Regions from separate parts of the Homo sapiens genome. Here region 2 is linked to region 1. The links come from fine-mapping of genetic effects on gene expression. Tissue or cell type: whole blood. Region 1 holds a variant in brackets; the other region holds the start of a gene. All regions are shown on one strand. Distances are from middle to middle.

Region 1 (8,099 bases):
GTTTCTCCGTGTTGGTCAGGCTGGTCTCAAACTCCTGACCTCAGGTGATCTGCCCGCCTTGGCATCCCAAAGTGCTGGGATTACAGGGGTGAGCCACTGTATCTGGCCATAATTTTTGTATTTTTAGTAGAGAAGGGGGTTTCACCATGTTGGCCAGGCTGGTCTTGAACTCCTGACCTCAGGTGATCGGCCCACCTTGGCCTCCCAAAGTGTTGGGATTACAGGCGTGAGCCACCGCGCCTGGCCACTGTGTGCAGATTTAAGAACATGTGTAGGGCCGGGCGTGGTGGCTCACGCCTGTACTCCCAGCACTTTGGGAGGCTGAGGCTGGCAGATCATGAGGTCAGGAGTTCGAGGCCAGCCTGGCCAACATGGTCAAACCCCGTCTCTACTAAAAATACAAAAATTAGCTGGGCGTGATGGTGCGTGCCTATAATCCCAGCTACTCAGGAGGCTGAGGCAGGAGGTTTGAACCCGTCAGGCAGTGGTTGCAGTGAGATGAGATCGTGCCACTGTACTCCAGCCTGGGCAACAAAGCAAGACTCCTCAAAAAAAAAAAAAAAAAAAAAAAAAAGAATGTGTGTGCATGTCTCTCGTGGGCATGGGTCCGGGTCTGTGTCTGCAGAGGGCCCTTTCTGGGGGAACAGCTGTGCATGCGCCTGTCTTTATGCAGGTGTCTGTGTGCATGTGCGACCATATCTATGCCTACATGGACCCGCGTGTGCACATGTGTCTGTGTGTTCCATCGCTGCAGTCCTGTGTGGCCCTACCTCAGGGTGTGTGCATGTGTGTCTCTTGCTTCTTCCACTGTGTCTCCAAGTGTGTTCAAGGGCTAGTGTATGCATGTGTGCATGAGTGTCTCTCACCCCACCTTGAGCTCAGCCATCCTGGGGTGGCACCCTACCCATACCCGGCCAAGTGTTTGGGGAGAAAAGGGCTGTTGGTTCTAGGATGTGCCAAGCATTTGTGCAGGGCTTGACCTGACCCTCGGTCTGCCCCCAGGAAGCTCCGTGTGCCCAGCTGGGGCACAGCCCCAGCTGATGCCCCAGAGGGGCCACCCATCGCAAGAGGGGCTTTGGGCTCTGCCCTCCCTCCCCATGGCGCATGGGCCAAAGCCTGAGACTGAAGGACTGTTGGACCTCAGCTTCCTGACAGAGGAGGAGCAGGAGGCCATTGCTGGCGTCCTCCAACGAGATGCCCGCCTGCGCCAGCTGGAGGAGGGGCGGGTCAGGTAAGGCAGGGCAGACCCTGGCCGGGGAGCACCAAGAGGCTTGAGTGGCCCCCATCCTGCTCCCTACCGACACCACTGCCTGTCAGATGTCTGCGTGGTTCTTGGTTTTGCCCTTCAGTCTCCTCTGGCCTTGGCCAGCTCACAGCTCATCACTTCTCCAGGGGTGACTGCACCAGCTTTCTCGCCAGCCTCCCTGCCTCCAGGCTTGCCTCTTGGGCCCACCTCCTGCAGCTGGTGCTCCCCAGATCTGTCTGCTTTTTTTTTTTTTTCTTGAGACAGAGTTTCATTTTTTCGCCCAGGCTGGAGTGAAGTGGCACAATCTTGGCTCACTGCAACCTCCACCCCTCCGGGTTCAAGCGATTCTCCTGCCACAGCCTCCCAAATAGCTGGGATTATAGGCACATGCCACCATGCCCAGCTAATTTTTGTATTTTTAGTAGAGATGGGTTTTCGCCATGTTGGCCAAGCTGGTCTTGAACCTCTGATCTCAGATGATCCACCCGCCTCAGCCTCCCAAAGTGCTGGGATTACAGACGCGAGCCACCGTGCCTGGCCAGATCCGTCCTTAATATCCCCGCTGAAAACTTCCCCTGGCTCCCCAGTATCAAGGGCAAGCTCCTAGGCATGGTCCACTGGGCCTCCCTGGTCGGTCCTTGCCAGCCCCCACCATCTCCTCTTTCACCATAACTCCGACCCGACACACAGACACAAAGTGACCCCTCCAGCCACTCAGGTGCTCCCCAGTCCCTGAACCCACTCTTCACTTCTATGCCTATGCTGGTACTTCTTCCTGGAAGAGCACAGTTGTAGAAGAGCATGGGCGTTACAAGCAATGTTTGGGGACAGACACTTCCTAGCTACGTAGCCTTGGCAACTCACCTGACCTCCTTGAGCACCATGCTCGTCGTCTGTAAAATGGGGCTAAGGAGTCCTACTTCACTGATTTAAGAGGAATTGGCCAGAGATAGTGGCAACGCCTGTAATCCTAGCACTTTGAGAGGCTGAGACGGGAGGATTGCTTGAGCCCAGGAATTCAAGACCAGCCTGGACAACACAGTGAGACCCCATTCCTACAAAATATAAAAAATTAGCCTGGCGTGGTGGTGTGCGCCTGTAGTCCCAGCTATTTAGGCAGCTGAGGTGAGAGGATTGCTTGAACCCAGGAGGTCAGGCTGCAATGAGCCATGATCATGCCACTGCACTCCAGCCCGGGCAACAGAGCAAGACCCTGTCTCAAAAAAAAATAATAAAATTAAAAGTATAATAATTATTATCCTTCTCTACCTGGAGAGTTCCAATTTGTCTTTTAAGAAGAAATTCAAGGCTGGGCACAGTGACTTACAACATTGTGGGAGGCTGAGGCAGGTGGATTGCTTGAGTCCAGGAGTTAGAGACCAGCCTGGGCAACATGGAAAAGCCCCGTCTCTACAAAAAAATATATAAAAAATTAGCTGGGCATGGTGGCACACGCCTGTAGTCCCAGCTACTCAGGAGGCTGAGGTGGGAGGATCACTTGAGCCTGGAAGGTGAAGGTTGCAGTGAGCTGAGATTGCGCCACAGCACTCCAGCCTGGGCATAGAGGGAGACTCCATCTCAAAATAATTAAGTAAATAAATAAATAAAGGCAATTCAAATGTCACCTCCTCTGGGAAGCCCTCCTGGATTCTCACAGGCAGAGCTGGCTCTTCTTACTTCTATCACATCATCCACCTCACTACAGTGTACTTGTCTCTTCTGGACTTGGTCTCCCCAGCAGCCCGAGCTCCTCCACAGCACAGATCAAGTCTGATTTGCTGTTGGGTCCCTGGCCCCTGGTCCCAAGCCTGTTAACAATGTAGGTGGCGGGAATGTTGCTTGGGTGAGTCATGACAGCCACACCCTCCCCCTTCCTCCAGCAAGCTCCGGGCCTCAGTGGCAGACCCTGGGCAGCTGAAGATCCTGACAGGGGACTGGTTCCAGGAAGCACGCTCCCAGCGGCACCACAATGCCCACTTCGGCTCTGACCTTGTCCGAGCGTCTATGCGCAGGAAGAAGAGCACCAGGGGTGAGAGGAGATCCTCGGGGCAGGGCAAGCCATGTGCCGTCCAGGGCGCTGGCTGTATGTGGACAGGGAGAGAGGACCACTAGGGCTCCAGTCCTGGCTGCCCCCAGTACTGTGTGTCTTTCAGTGGGCAATGCCCCTCCGTGGGCATGGGGTGGGTGGGTATCTCCCAGGGCCTCTCCCGAGTCACAGCCAGGCTTCCTGAGCATGGGGGCTCACAGAACTTCTCACCTGCGCCCAGGAGACCAGGCTCCAGGCCACGACAGGGAGGCTGAGGCTGCTGTGAAAGAGAAGGAAGAGGGGCCAGAGCCCAGGTGAGGAGGAGTCTCAGGAAGGGGGAGATGGTGCCCACCAGTCACCAGGGTCCCTCCCTCTGAGAGCGTCCTCTCCCTACTCCTAGGCTCACCATTGATGAGGCCCCTCAGGAGAGGCTCAGGGAGACTGAGGTAAGTGAATGAGCCAACATGTGAGTACAGTGTCCCTGGAGGGGAGGTGGAATGTGCAGGGGGCAGGGGGGAAAGAGCCCCAGCCTGGGAATGGGGAGACCCTGGAAATGTTCCTTCCTGTGTCTGCACCTCATCACCTCCTGGGTGGAACAGTGGTGAACGGTGGGGAACGGTGGTGAATGGTGGTAAACAGTGGTGAACGGTGGTGAACAGTGAGTGGTATATGGACCCAGCCTCTAAGGGAACTTCTGAATCTGGCTATTAAGGGGTGAAGTGGGGCCAGGCACGGTGGCTCATGCCTGTAATCCCAGCATTTTGGGAGGCTGATGTGGGAGGATCGCTTGAGCCGAGGAGTTCAAGACCAGCCTGGGCAACATAGCAAAATGCCCCCCATGTCTATAAAAAATAAATAAAAAAAAAAGGCCGGTCGTGGCAGCTCACGCCTATAATCCCAGCACTTTGGGAAGCCGAGATCACCTGAGGTCAGGAGCTCAAGACCAGCCTGACTAACATGGAGAAACCCCATCTCTACTAAAAATACAAAATTAGCTGGGCATGATGGTGCATAACCTGGAATCTCAGCTACTGGGAGGCTGAGGCAGGAGAATCGCTTGAACCCAGGAGGCGGAGGTTGCAGTGAGCCAAGATCACACCATTGCACTCTAGCCTGGGCAACAAGAGTGAAACTCTGTCTCAATTAAAAATAATAAGAATAAATT[T/A]AAAAAAAGAAAAAAGGTTGTCTACCAATGGGTCAATATAAAAAATAAAAATAAAAAAAGGAGTGAGAAAGGAATGGGACTGGCCTGGCCTGGCAGAGGTGGAGGACTCAGGTACGAATGACCCCACCAATGGGAGTAGGGAGTCAGGCGGCACAAGCCCTGCGGGGTGGGCTGTGAAGCACTGGTCTCACCGCTCCTGCAGCTGGCTGCCAGCCCTGCCCGGAGGGCTGCCCTAAACCTGAAACTGGGGTAGCTGGCTGGAGCCCTATGACCTCTGACCCCAATATGACCTTTGACCTCTTCCTCACCAGCCCCCGTACTGTGACCTCTACCCCTTTCTTCCTTCAGGGACCTGATTTCCCATCGCCTTCTGTCCCCCTAAAGGCTTCAGATCCTGAGGAGGCGTCCCAGGCCCAGGAAGGTGAGTGGGAGCGCCTGTTGGGGAGCACGGAGAGGTTTCGCGGGTCAGAGGCAGCTCTAAGGGGCCCCAACCACCTGTGTTCACCCTCGTCACCCCCACTCCCACCCCGCGTCGGAGGTGGGGACGATCCCAGGGCAGCACCGGGGCCTGAATCTGCAGCTCGCTGGGGTTGTAAACCAGTTCCTACAAATTTGCTTAGGGGAGGGCAGGAGAGGGCTCGCTTAGCATCTCGTGCCCCACCCCAGATCCTGGCCAAGGAGACCAACAGGTCTGTGCCGAGGAGGCTGACCCGGAGCTGGAGCCCGCGTCGGGGGGAGAGCAGGAGCCGCGGCCCCAGCAAGCCCAGGTAGGCGGGAGTGGCCCGTGGCTGCTCTCAACATCCGGAGCGGACTCCGGGCGGGGAGCGCTCCTGCCCAGGGCTGCGAGCCGCCCGCGACCCAGGGCGCTCGGGGCAGGGGTGGGGAAAGAAGGGGCGCCCCGTCACTTGCCCCCTCTGCAGACCAAGGCCGCGTCCCAGATCCTGGAGAATGGGGAGGAGGCCCCGGGGCCCGACCCCTCTCTCGACCGCATGCTCAGCAGCAGCTCCTCGGTGTCCAGCCTTAACTCCTCCACGGTGAGGCGGGAGGGAGGGGACCCGGGCGGCCGGGGGGTGGACCCGTTCCGATGCGTAGCCCCTGCCTGCCCCTCCCTCGCCGCGGGACCCACCGCTGCAGCCCCCCAGCCTGCCACCTATGACCCGGGTCTGAAGCCTCCGCGCTGCCCGCGGCCCCGACGTGAGCCCTGCGAGCGGCCCTGACTCCCACCCACTCCCGTCCGCAGCTGAGCGGCAGCCAGATGAGCCTGTCAGGCGACGCGGAGGCGGTGCAGGTCCGCGGCTCCGTGCACTTCGCGCTGCACTACGAGCCGGGCGCCGCCGAGCTGCGCGTGCACGTGATCCAGTGCCAGGGCCTGGCCGCCGCCCGGCGCCGCCGCTCGGACCCGTGAGTGCCCCGCCGGCCAAGCGGGGCGCGGCTGTCACAGCCCAGCCCACCATTCACAGGGTCTCGGCCTCCTCGTCCTCATCTTCAAAATGGGAACAACAGCGTTATTGGGAGGCGTGCGATTAAGCGAGACAATCCCTGTAAAGCGCTTAGCACGAGGCCTGGCACGTGTTCGGGATGGTGGCTGGGGGAGCCCACAGGCAGGGGAGAAGGCTCTGGGAGGGCCCCTCCTCACCTCGGGTTCTCACCTCCCCAGCTACGTCAAAAGCTACCTCCTCCCGGATAAGCAGAGCAAGCGCAAGACGGCGGTGAAGAAACGGAATCTGAATCCGGTTTTCAACGAGACTCTCCGGGTGAGGCTGTGACCACGATGCGGTTCCCCGTTAATGAACTGGACGCCCCCTTCCTGCGGGGCTAGGTGGCAAGGGCAGCCAGTAACGTCATTGCCCGGAGGATCGGCGGAGGGGGCCCATTAACTCGTTATCCAGTGTTGTCAGCCTCGTGGTGGGCGTGGTGATAGTGCAGGTCCCCATTAATGCCCTTAGGGGCTCCCCAGAATTCCATCATGGTAGGAACGCGGTAGGACCTGCCTCAGCCAACTCGCGCAGCATCTACGCGGGCCACCAGCAGTGCTCCACTAAAGCTCACCTCCTGTCCTCAGTACTCCGTCCCGCAGGCCGAGCTTCAGGGCCGCGTGCTGAGCCTGTCTGTGTGGCACCGCGAAAGCCTGGGTCGCAACATCTTTCTGGGCGAAGTTGAAGTGCCCCTGGACACGTGGGACTGGGGCTCTGAGCCCACCTGGCTCCCCCTGCAGCCCCGGGTGAGGCAGCCAGGCCGCGTGGGGAGACCTGCGGCCCGGGTCTCCTGCATTTACCCCACCAGGCTCTCCCGCAGCCCCCTCACACCCCGCCTTCGACAGAACCTCCCCTCAACCTCTTAACCTCATGGCCCCAGGCGAAGCCCGGCCGGCCACGGCCCCTTCCCCGAGGGCGCTAGGACCCCTAGGTTCTGCCCCTGCAGGCCCCGCCGTCTCTTCTAGCCGCACCCCATCCGGGTCTGCAGACCCCACCCTCCTGAGGCCCCTTTCCATTAGCCCCTGCTCCACGATAAGCCCGCCTCTCGCAGGTCCCACCCTCTCCCGACGACCTTCCGAGCCGCGGGTTACTCGCCCTGTCCCTCAAGTACGTCCCCGCCGGCTCCGAGGGTGAGTGACAGCCGGAGAGGCCAAGCTGGACACGCCCTGAAAAGCGGGAGACTCCAGTCCCCGGGTTTGGGGGCGGTGGACTCCATCCGTGTGCGGGCCTGAGCCGAGCCTCTCCGCAGGCGCAGGACTGCCCCCGAGCGGGGAGCTGCACTTCTGGGTGAAGGAGGCTCGGGACCTCCTGCCGCTGCGGGCAGGATCCCTGGACACTTACGTACAATGGTGAGGAGTGCTGGCCCTCCGGGCTTCCCATTCTTTTGCCTGCAGTGGAGTGCCCAACCTCCACAAACCCTTACTAATCAACCTTTGATCACGCAGCCTGGGCTTTCACCACTGAGCAGGGGTGAAGGGGACGGTTTGAGCAAAGGCCTGGAGTCAGGGAAGTTGAGGACACCTTTGAGGAGCTGCATTTCAGCGTGACTGGCGCCTATAGGACTTGTTGAAAAGCTGAGGCTGAGGGCTGCAAGGGTCCTTCCATAGAGAACCTGGGAGGCCAGGCTGTGGGGCTTGGCTGGGAACTTATAGTTCAGTGTAAGCTTCTAGGGGACTTCTAGGGGTGCCTCCAGGTGCTGCCCCCACTGTTAGAGAGTGAAATGGAGGTGGGCGGGTCACTTCTGGGTGTCCACTCTGATGCAGCCAGAGGCTGCAGTACAGAGGTACTGTACTTCTGAGCAACACTGTATTTTGCAGAGGGGGTTCCCAGGCTTTGAAAACCTTGGAAACAGGCCAGGCACGGTGGCTTATGCCTGTAATCCCAGCACTTTAAGAGGCTGAGGCGGGTGGATCACCTGAGGTCAGGAGTTTGAGACCAGCCTGACCAACATGGTGAAACCCCATCTCTATCAAAAGTACAAGAAATTATCCGGGCGTGGTGGTGGGTGCCTGTAATCCCAGCTACTTGAGAGACTGAGGCGGGAGAATCACTCGAACCCAGAAGGTTGCAGTGAACCAAGATCACGCCACTGCACTCCAACCTGGGCAAAACAGAGCGAGACTCGATCTCAAAAAATAAAAAAAAACCTTGGAAACTGCTTGAGGAGGGGTGGTGGTGGAGCAACAG
Region 2 (8,099 bases), 110 kb before region 1:
TAGAGACGGGGTTTCACTATGTTGGCCAGTCTGGTCTCGAACTCCTGATCTCGTGATCTGCCTGCTTCGGCCTCCCAGAGTGCTGGGATTACAGGCGTGAGCCACCGCGCCTGGCCAATGTTTATATTTTTTGTAGAGACAGGATTTTGCCGTATTGCCCACGCTGGTCTGGAACCAAAACGTTGGGATTACAGGCGTGAGCCTCCATGCCTGGCCGAGTCTCTGTTTCTTCTATGTAAAATGGGAGTAAGAATCATACCTAACTCACAACGTGGTTGGGAGAAGCAAATGAGTTAGTGTGTGTTAATGTATATGGGTGTGTGTGCGTGCGTGTACACATATGTATGTATAGATTTATGTATAGGTCTCTGCCTATATGGAGAGAGAGGAAGTGAGAAAGAGAGAAACTCAAGCAAGTGTAAGAGTACGAGTGGTATCTATTAGAAAATAATAAATAGTAACTGCAGTTGTTAATAGTCTTCTTCCTGGTGGGGCGAGGTGGCTCATGCCTCTAATCCCAGCACTTTGAGAGGCCAAGGCAGGTGGATCACCTGCGATCAGGAGTTTGAGACCAGCCTGACCAATTATGGTGAAACCCTATCTCTACTAAAAATACAAAAATTAGCCGGGCGTCGTGGCATGTGCCTGTAGTCCCAGCTACTCGGGAGGCTGAGACAGGAGAATCGCTTGAACCCAGGAGGCAGAGGTTGCAGTGAGCCGAGATTGCACCACTATACTCCAGCCTGGGCGACAGAGCAAGACTCCGTCTCAAAAGAAATAGTCTTCTTCCTGTCATCAGTCTCTACCAACGAAAGTTCATTCTGACAACAAATATTTACTGAGTTTCTGCTATGTGCCATAGACTGTGCTAGGAGTCACAGAAACATCACCCACTCTTCTCTATCAGTATATCTAAGATCCTCTGTGACCTTGCCAGCATTAAACAAGACTTTAAAATGGGGGTTCTCTGGCCGGGCGCGGTGGCTCATGTCTGTAGTGACAGCACTTTGGGAGGCAGAGGCGGGTGGATCACGAGGTCAGGAGATCGAGACTATCCTGGCTAGTACGGTGAAACCCCGTCTGTACTAAATGAAATGACAAACTGGTGGCGGGCGCCTGTAGTCCCAGCTACTCGGGAGGCTTAGGCAGGAGAATGGTGTGAACCCGGGAGGCAGAGCTTGCAGTGAGCAGAGATTGCCCCACTGCACTCCAGCCTGGGCGACAGAGCAAGACTCTGTCTCAAAAAAAGAAGAAAAAAGTGGGGGGGGGGGTGGTCTCTGCCAAAAACACAGGATGCTAAAATGATTTAAAAATGAGGGTTCTGGATTTGAATAGTGTAGGCTTTAATCCCAACTGTACCACTTCCTAGCTATGTGATTGTGGGAGTCTGTCTTTCTTTCTTTTCTTTTTTCTTTTTTTGAGATGGAGTCTCTCTCTGTTGCTCAGGCTGGAGTGCAGTGGCACGACCTCGGCTCACTGCAACCTTCGCCTCTAGGATTCAAGTGATTCTCCTGCCTCAGCCTCCTGAGTAGCTGGGATTACAGGCACGCGCCACCACGCCCGGCTAATTTTTGTATTTTTAGTAGAGACGGGGTTTCACCATGCTGGCCAGGCTGGTCTTGAACTCCCGACCTCAGGCGATCCACCCGCCCTTGGCCTCCCAAAGTGCTGGTATTACAGGCGTGAGCCACCGCGCCCGGCCGGGAGTGTTTCTTTTTCTTTTACTTTTTTTTTTTTTTTTTTTTTTGAGACGGAGTCTCGCTCTGTCGCCCAGGCTGGAGTGCAGTGACGCGATCTCGGCTCACTGCAAGCTGCGCCTCCCGGGTTCACGCCATTCTCCTGCCTCAGCCTCCCGAGTAGCTGGTTCTACAGGCGCCCACCATCACGCCCGGCTAATTTTTTTGTATTTTTAGTAGAGATGGGGTTTCACCGTGTTAGCCAGGTGGTCTCTATCTCCTGATCTCGTGATCCGCCCGCCTCTGCCTCCCAAAGTGCTGGGATTACAGGCGTGAGCCACCGCGCCCAGCCCGGGAGTATTTCTTAATTCACTAGTAGCACTTATCTCCCATGGTAAGTATTCAATAAATGTTAGATATTATTCAGTTTAATTAACCCAATGACCCTAACCAAGGTTGCAGCCTGAACCTGGGGAGCTGCAGATAGATGATCTCAAAGCTTTCTTCTAGTCCCAAAGTCTATGATTTTTTATATTCAGTAGAACAGCTGTGGTGGAGAGTTCAGGGGGAATGACCCACAATATTTTTAGGAGAAAGGCATAAAAGGCTTTGTGAGCGGTTTCACAAGGATAGGTTCTTACTCCTCTAAATGGGGAGAAATCTCCCTTGCGGAGAAATCACCAGCAATTAGAATACTACCTTTGTCTCTGGGAGTATTCAGGTATTCACAGACAAATTCGTACTCATGATGTGAGCAGAATTGGAAAAAAAAAAAAAAAAAAAAAAAAAAAACAAGCGACACATGGAGTGATAAACACTATAAATGCCAAATACATATATTCAGTCCTTACTGAGAGCGGGTGCTGTCTGGTTTTCACAGGAAAGACAGGCAGTGTTAAAAGGCTCAGACTCTGGTGTCAGGCAGATCTGGGTCTAATTCCCAATTTGCCAACTTATCAGGACCCCGGGGGCAAGTTGCTTTTAGCCTTTCTGCTTCAGCTTTCCTTTTCTGCAAAACACAGACAGCAATAGTACCTAGCTAAGAGACTGTACCCAATCCAGTGCGAATAAAAGTGAATTATTGTTAGTATCTGACAAATGGCACCCTATGGGTGACAAGTTTCCTTTGTCAGAAGGTGACACGTCTTCCCTTTCTGACTTGAGGTTTCACGGGTGGGGCCTGGTCTCTGCCTTAAGAAGATAGGCTTAGTGCCACCCTTGTCACCTTGGGAACTTCCTTAATAAAGAGGAGGGTCTCTCCTCCATCAGACCCGGGACTCCACAAGGCTGGAACTGCGTCTCTTCCTCAGAGGTGGGAGCAGCAGTGACTCCGCTAGGGTCAGATGGACCTAGTCGCTCCCATCACCCCGAGGGCACCCAGAGTGTGTGTGGCTGACTCCTCTCCAGGCTACTCAGCGTAGGCCCGATTCTCTTTCATTCTCTTCCTTAAGGCCCAGGAGACGTCAGTGAGGACTGTGCCACTTCAGCAGCCCCCCAGAGCAGGAAGGAGTGGGCTGAGGAGCCCCCCGGGGCCCTAGCCTGAGAGGTCCCAGAATTCGGGGGCTGAGAGGAAGTCTTAGGAGCTCTTAAGGGGCTGTGAGGGGACCTGGGGTTCAGTGGGCGAGCGTGTGGGCGGGTGTCCCAGAAGCGGTGTGAGGAGCGTTTTACCCGGTGGTGGGGTGGGAGGTGCGTCCGGGTAACTAATGGCAACCGGGCGGGGTGAGCCCGCTCTGCAGGAACTCCTCGACGGCGAAAAACTACGACTCCCAGGGTGCCCCAGGGCTTAGCCCAGCTTTCCCGCCCGCCCACTGGCTGCCGGTCCCGCAAGCGGCGAAGCCCATTGGCCACGGCGGTGCGGGGCTCCCCCACTAGCAGGTTAGTGGGCGCCGCCGGCAGCAGACGTTGACCGGGCGCGGGGGGGTAAGTGGGGGGGCCCGGCTAGCCATTCTGGAAGCGGCCGGGCGCAGTCTTCGTAGCGTACCCGCCGGCTGCGAGGCGCAGGGCGGAGGCGGAGACTGCGTGGCGCAGGCGCGTTGCTGGGCTTCTCCTGGGTCCCCAGACAGCTGGAGGAGATAAACAGAGGAGGAGGAGGGAGGGGAGTGCGTGTGTGAGAGCGCGCGAGGGAGTGTGAGTGTGTGTGAGCGCGGGTGTGAGGCGGTGCGCAGGGGCGGGCGGAGGCGCTGTCCGGCCCCGGCCAGGCGCCGGGCGGGGAGCATGGGAAGGGGCTAGAACTGCTCGAGCCCCCCAGCCCCCTCCCCGGGATCCGCGCCCCCCTTCCCGGGAGAGGGGCCGCCCCCCCCGGACGGACATGGGCTCCTGAAGTTGCGCCGCTGCCGGTCGGGGGAAGAGACCTGACAGGTACGGGTCACCGCCGCCCCCTGCCCTCCGCGGGCGCCGAGGCGGGGACCGGCTCCCGCAGCCCCGGTGAACGGGCCGCCCGCTCTGGGCCGGCTCCAGCCCTGCCGGCCTGGGGGCCTGAGCCTACCCGCCTCGGGGCCCCGGGTGTCCCGAGAGGGGCCAGGCCTCGCCGGGGCGGAGGGCAGAGTGGTCCGGGGGCGGGGTGGGGGCGGAGGGTTTGGTCGGGACGCGGGGGGAGGCTGTGGGAGTCCGGGGAGGCTCTGCGGAGGGAGAGGTGGAAGTCATTCCATCATGGGACTTTTTTGCGGAGTTTTTGTTTGACATCTGATCTGGCGCCGGAGTCAGGAAGAAGGGGCAGGTGTAAGTGCTGGGAGGGCAACGCCGACCTGACCTGCCCTCTTAGCTTCTCGCTCTCTCTCTTTCTGTTTTTCTCTCTCTCTTTCTGTGTGTGTGTGTGTGTGTGTGTGTGTGTGTGTGTGTGTGTGTCCACAGCAGATGCCTTCAGTGGCCCATCCTGGCACCAAACAACTCTGCCAAGGTGTTTCCACCAGGCGACTGTAGCACCCCGTATACAAAGGGCCTCTGCTTGGGAACGGGCTATTCAGTACCCACTTCAAAGGGTAAATAGGAAGTGAGGAGATAGAAGAGAGACTGCGAACCAGCAGGATCCACTTCTTGGACTGAAAGCCGCAGTGGGACGCCCCTTTGCCAGATTGGTTGACTTTGCTTGGTGGCTTGGGCTCTCTCTCCTCTGCGGGTGTACTCCCAGGGTTTCTAGAGGAGAGGTACAGGGGCCTGTAACTAATGTCTTAATAGCCGAATTTGACTGTTTTCCCCAGAGTTCTTTTCTTCTGTGACTTTCTTTAACCTCCTGAAGTACTGGTAGAGCAACGTTATAGTTTTTCTCTCAAGTTGGTGATTTTAGGAGCCTGGTAGGGTGGCTGAAGCTTCCCCATTCATTCCAAGGATGGGGTAGATGATCTGGGTAAAGTGGCAGTGAAGTCTTCCCTTTCTAACAAAGCCTGAAACCGTTTTGAGAAGAAACTATTTTGAGGGCAGCTTCTGACTCAAAGACGTTACGAAATCCCCACCTAGGACACCGGTATGCCCAGTGGTCCCTACTAAGCTTTTCTGTGTCTTTTAGAGTCGTTGAGTGGCCAGCTTCTGCTCACTGTACTGAAGGAACTACTTAATGCTATTTCTGTCTTGAGTTCTGGCTTATTCTTCCTTGTGATTCTTATATCTTTAGCGGGATTGAATTGAATTTTTGCTGTTGAGTGTAATAGCCAGATCCTCTGTAACAGACCAGGGAGTAACTAGTTGGGCTCCTTTGGGCCAAGTCTGAGACTTACTGAGGTTTCTTCATTGTAGGTTGTTGTATTTCGTTGGCAGGTGGGAAATGACCTTTTCCGTCATAGTTTGTGATCATGCTGCTTTAAGGCTGGAGTCCTGCTCTCCTTTCCTTTTTTGACCTATATGGGAGCACTTCTGTTCGAGTCTTATCTCAATTTGAAGGAACAGTGCTTTTGGATCAACTCTGCCGAATAATTGAGCAGTAGCCCATATTTCTGCCTGGGACACCTTCATTGAGGGTCACGAGGGAAAGAGAGAACACGTGTAAATATTATGATGATGATGTTAACAACTATTTACCAGTTTCATACAATTGACAGTTTTTTTTAGCCGGGAGGAGTTCAGTATTGACTCATTGGGCATCTTATGTAGGGTGTTTTTGCACACCTAGACTTTAGGATCTGGAAAGACAACTGAAAATCTTGAAGCCCACTGCCAAACATTTGTGGATCTTGGGCCAACTGCTAAGGAAGATCTAGACTATGACTTGGTCTTTAATTATTTTTATTTTTTTCTCCTTTATGTATGTATGTATTTATTTATTTATTTTTTGAGATGGAGTCTTGCTCTGTTGCCCAGGCTGAAGTGCAGTGGCGCGATCTCAGCTCACTGCAACCTCAGCCTCCTGGGTTCAAGCAATTCTCTGCTTCAGCCTCCCAAGTAGCTGGGATTGCAGGTGCCTGCCACCATGCCCAGCTAATTTTTGTATTTTTAGTAGAGATGGGGTTTCACCATCTTGGCCAGGCTGGTCTTGAACTCCTGACCTCGTGATCCACCGACCTCGGCCTCCCAGAGTGCTGGGATTACAGGTGTGAGCCACCGCACCTGGCCTCTCCTTTTATTTTTATTTTTTTGAGATGGGGTCTCACTCTGTTGCCTGGGCTGGTCTCAAACTCCTGAGCTCAAGGGATTCTCGTACCTCTGCCTTCCTAGTAGCTGGGACTACAGACACGGCCTCCGTGACCACTCTCTTCTCTCTTTTTAAAAATTAAGGAATGTTGCTGACATGTGCAGTTCTGAGTCTCAGAGAGGAAGTCAAACAGAACATGTAATCTGGTGATACTTGTGTTTTCTTTGGGTCACTGGTTTAGTTATCTATTCTGTTTCCTTTCTTCTTTCCACCTCACCTTTCCAGATGCTCCACTGTATCTTTAGGCTGCCATTGCAGATTGCTGGGCCCACAAAACCCTTAGGTTGTACTTTCTTAGCTGTCATCTCTTGAAAAGCCAAAGTTCTGGCAGTTGCTATTAGAAACCAGTTCCTGGCTGAGCGCGGTGGCTCACGCCTGTAATCCCAGCACTTTGGGAGGCTGAGGTGGGCAGATCACGAGGTCAGGAGATTGAGACCATCCTGGCTAACACGGTGAAACCCCATCTCTACTAAAAATACAAAAAAAATTAGCCGGGCATGGTGGCACGCGCCTGTAGTCCCAGCTACTCAGGAGGGATTTTCCTACTAAGGCAGGAAAATCGCTTGAACCCAGGAGGTGGAGGTTGCGGTGAGCTGTGATCGTGCCATTGCACTCCAGCCTGGGCAACAAAAGTGAAACTCCATCTCAAAAAAAAAAAAAAGAAAAGAAAAGAAAAAAAAGAAAGAAGCCAGTTCCTTGGTGTAGTTAATTTACTTTGAGAGGTATTTGCCAGTTGGGATATGTCCTAAAAAGTGACTGACATTTTATTCAGGGCCTGGTATATCTTGAGCTCAGTGCTAGCTAGTATTTTTACTTTATCCAGTGTAACCTTCATGACTGTCCTGTGAGGTGAGAATCATTTTCCCTATTATACCTATGAAGAAACAGATTCAGAGAAATTAAGTTATTTGCTTAAGGTCACACAGCAAGTAAGAGGAAGGACTGGAATTCAAACCCAGGTCTCTCTGCTCTGTGATATTGAATTGCCTCTGGGACTGTGACACATGAAGAAGAACTGAAAAGACCAAGGCTAAGAGCCTGGGGGAACATGATACCTCATTCAAATACTTGAAGATTGTCATGGGGAAAGGAAACTGGATGTTCTCTGTGATTCTAGAAGGCATCTCAGGATTAAATGACATAATTTCCAAGAAGGTAGACTTTGGTTTGATAGGAGATAATGTAGCTTTCTAAAAACAAAATGGGCTGCCTTGTGAGGGAGTGAGTTACCCATCATTGCAGATATTCAAGCAGAGAGTTTGCCACATCTTTTTTTTTTCTTTGAGACAGAGTCTTACTTCGTCATCCAGGCTGGAGTGCAGTGGCATGATCTCAGCTCACTGCAACCTCTGCCTCCCAGGTTCAAGTGATTCCCATGCCTCACTTCATCTTCCAGGCTGGAGTGCAGTGGCATGATCTCGGCTCACTGCAACCTCTGCCTCCCAGGTTCAAGTGATTCTCATGCCTCAGCCTCCCAAGTAGCTGGAATTATAGGCATGTACCACCACGCCCATCTAATTTTTGTATTTTTGTAGAGATGGGGTTTCACCATGTTGACCAGACTGGTCTTGAACTCCTGACCTCAGGTGATCCGCCCGCCTCAGCCTCCCAAAGTGCTGGGATTACAGGTGTGAGACACCGCGCCCAGCCCCGGCTAATTTTTTTGTATTTTTATTAGAGACAGGGTTTTGCCATGTTGCCCAGGCTGGTCTTGAACTCCTGAGTTCCACCTGCCTCGGTCTCCCAAAGTGCTAGGATTACAGGCATGAGCCACCGCTCCTGGCTTTTTTTTTTTTTTTTTT

The links. PIP is the estimated chance that this variant, and not a neighbour inherited with it, causes the effect.
Region 2: it holds the start of WDTC1, and the variant in region 1 is fine-mapped to the expression of WDTC1 in whole blood (TOPMed, PIP 0.95).

The regions. Positions count from the first base shown.
Region 1 is chr1:27,344,295-27,352,393 of GRCh38, forward strand. SYTL1 (synaptotagmin like 1) reads left to right here. Exons shown (of 15, transcript NM_001193308.2): 2 at 1,003-1,231; 3 at 3,127-3,275; 4 at 3,514-3,586; 5 at 3,673-3,718; 6 at 4,786-4,858; 7 at 5,104-5,204; 8 at 5,358-5,471; 9 at 5,678-5,838; 10 at 6,095-6,191; 11 at 6,500-6,658; 12 at 6,964-7,042; 13 at 7,162-7,261. The coding sequence starts at 1,041. Among named protein-coding and RNA genes, the nearest start is that of SYTL1, 6.3 kb to the left of the region's middle. RefSeq lists enhancers at 2,763-3,303, 3,304-3,842 and silencers at 5,222-5,531, 5,632-5,691. The variant T/A (reference allele first, on the strand shown) is at 4,438.
Region 2 is chr1:27,230,918-27,239,016 of GRCh38, forward strand. WDTC1 (WD and tetratricopeptide repeats 1) reads left to right here and starts at 3,715. Exons shown (of 16, transcript NM_001276252.2): 1 at 3,715-4,034. WDTC1-DT (WDTC1 divergent transcript) reads right to left here and starts at 3,512. Exons shown (of 3, transcript XR_947117.2): 1 at 3,345-3,512; 2 at 2,528-2,685. RefSeq lists silencers at 3,535-3,594, 3,795-3,944, 4,135-4,184, 4,345-4,394.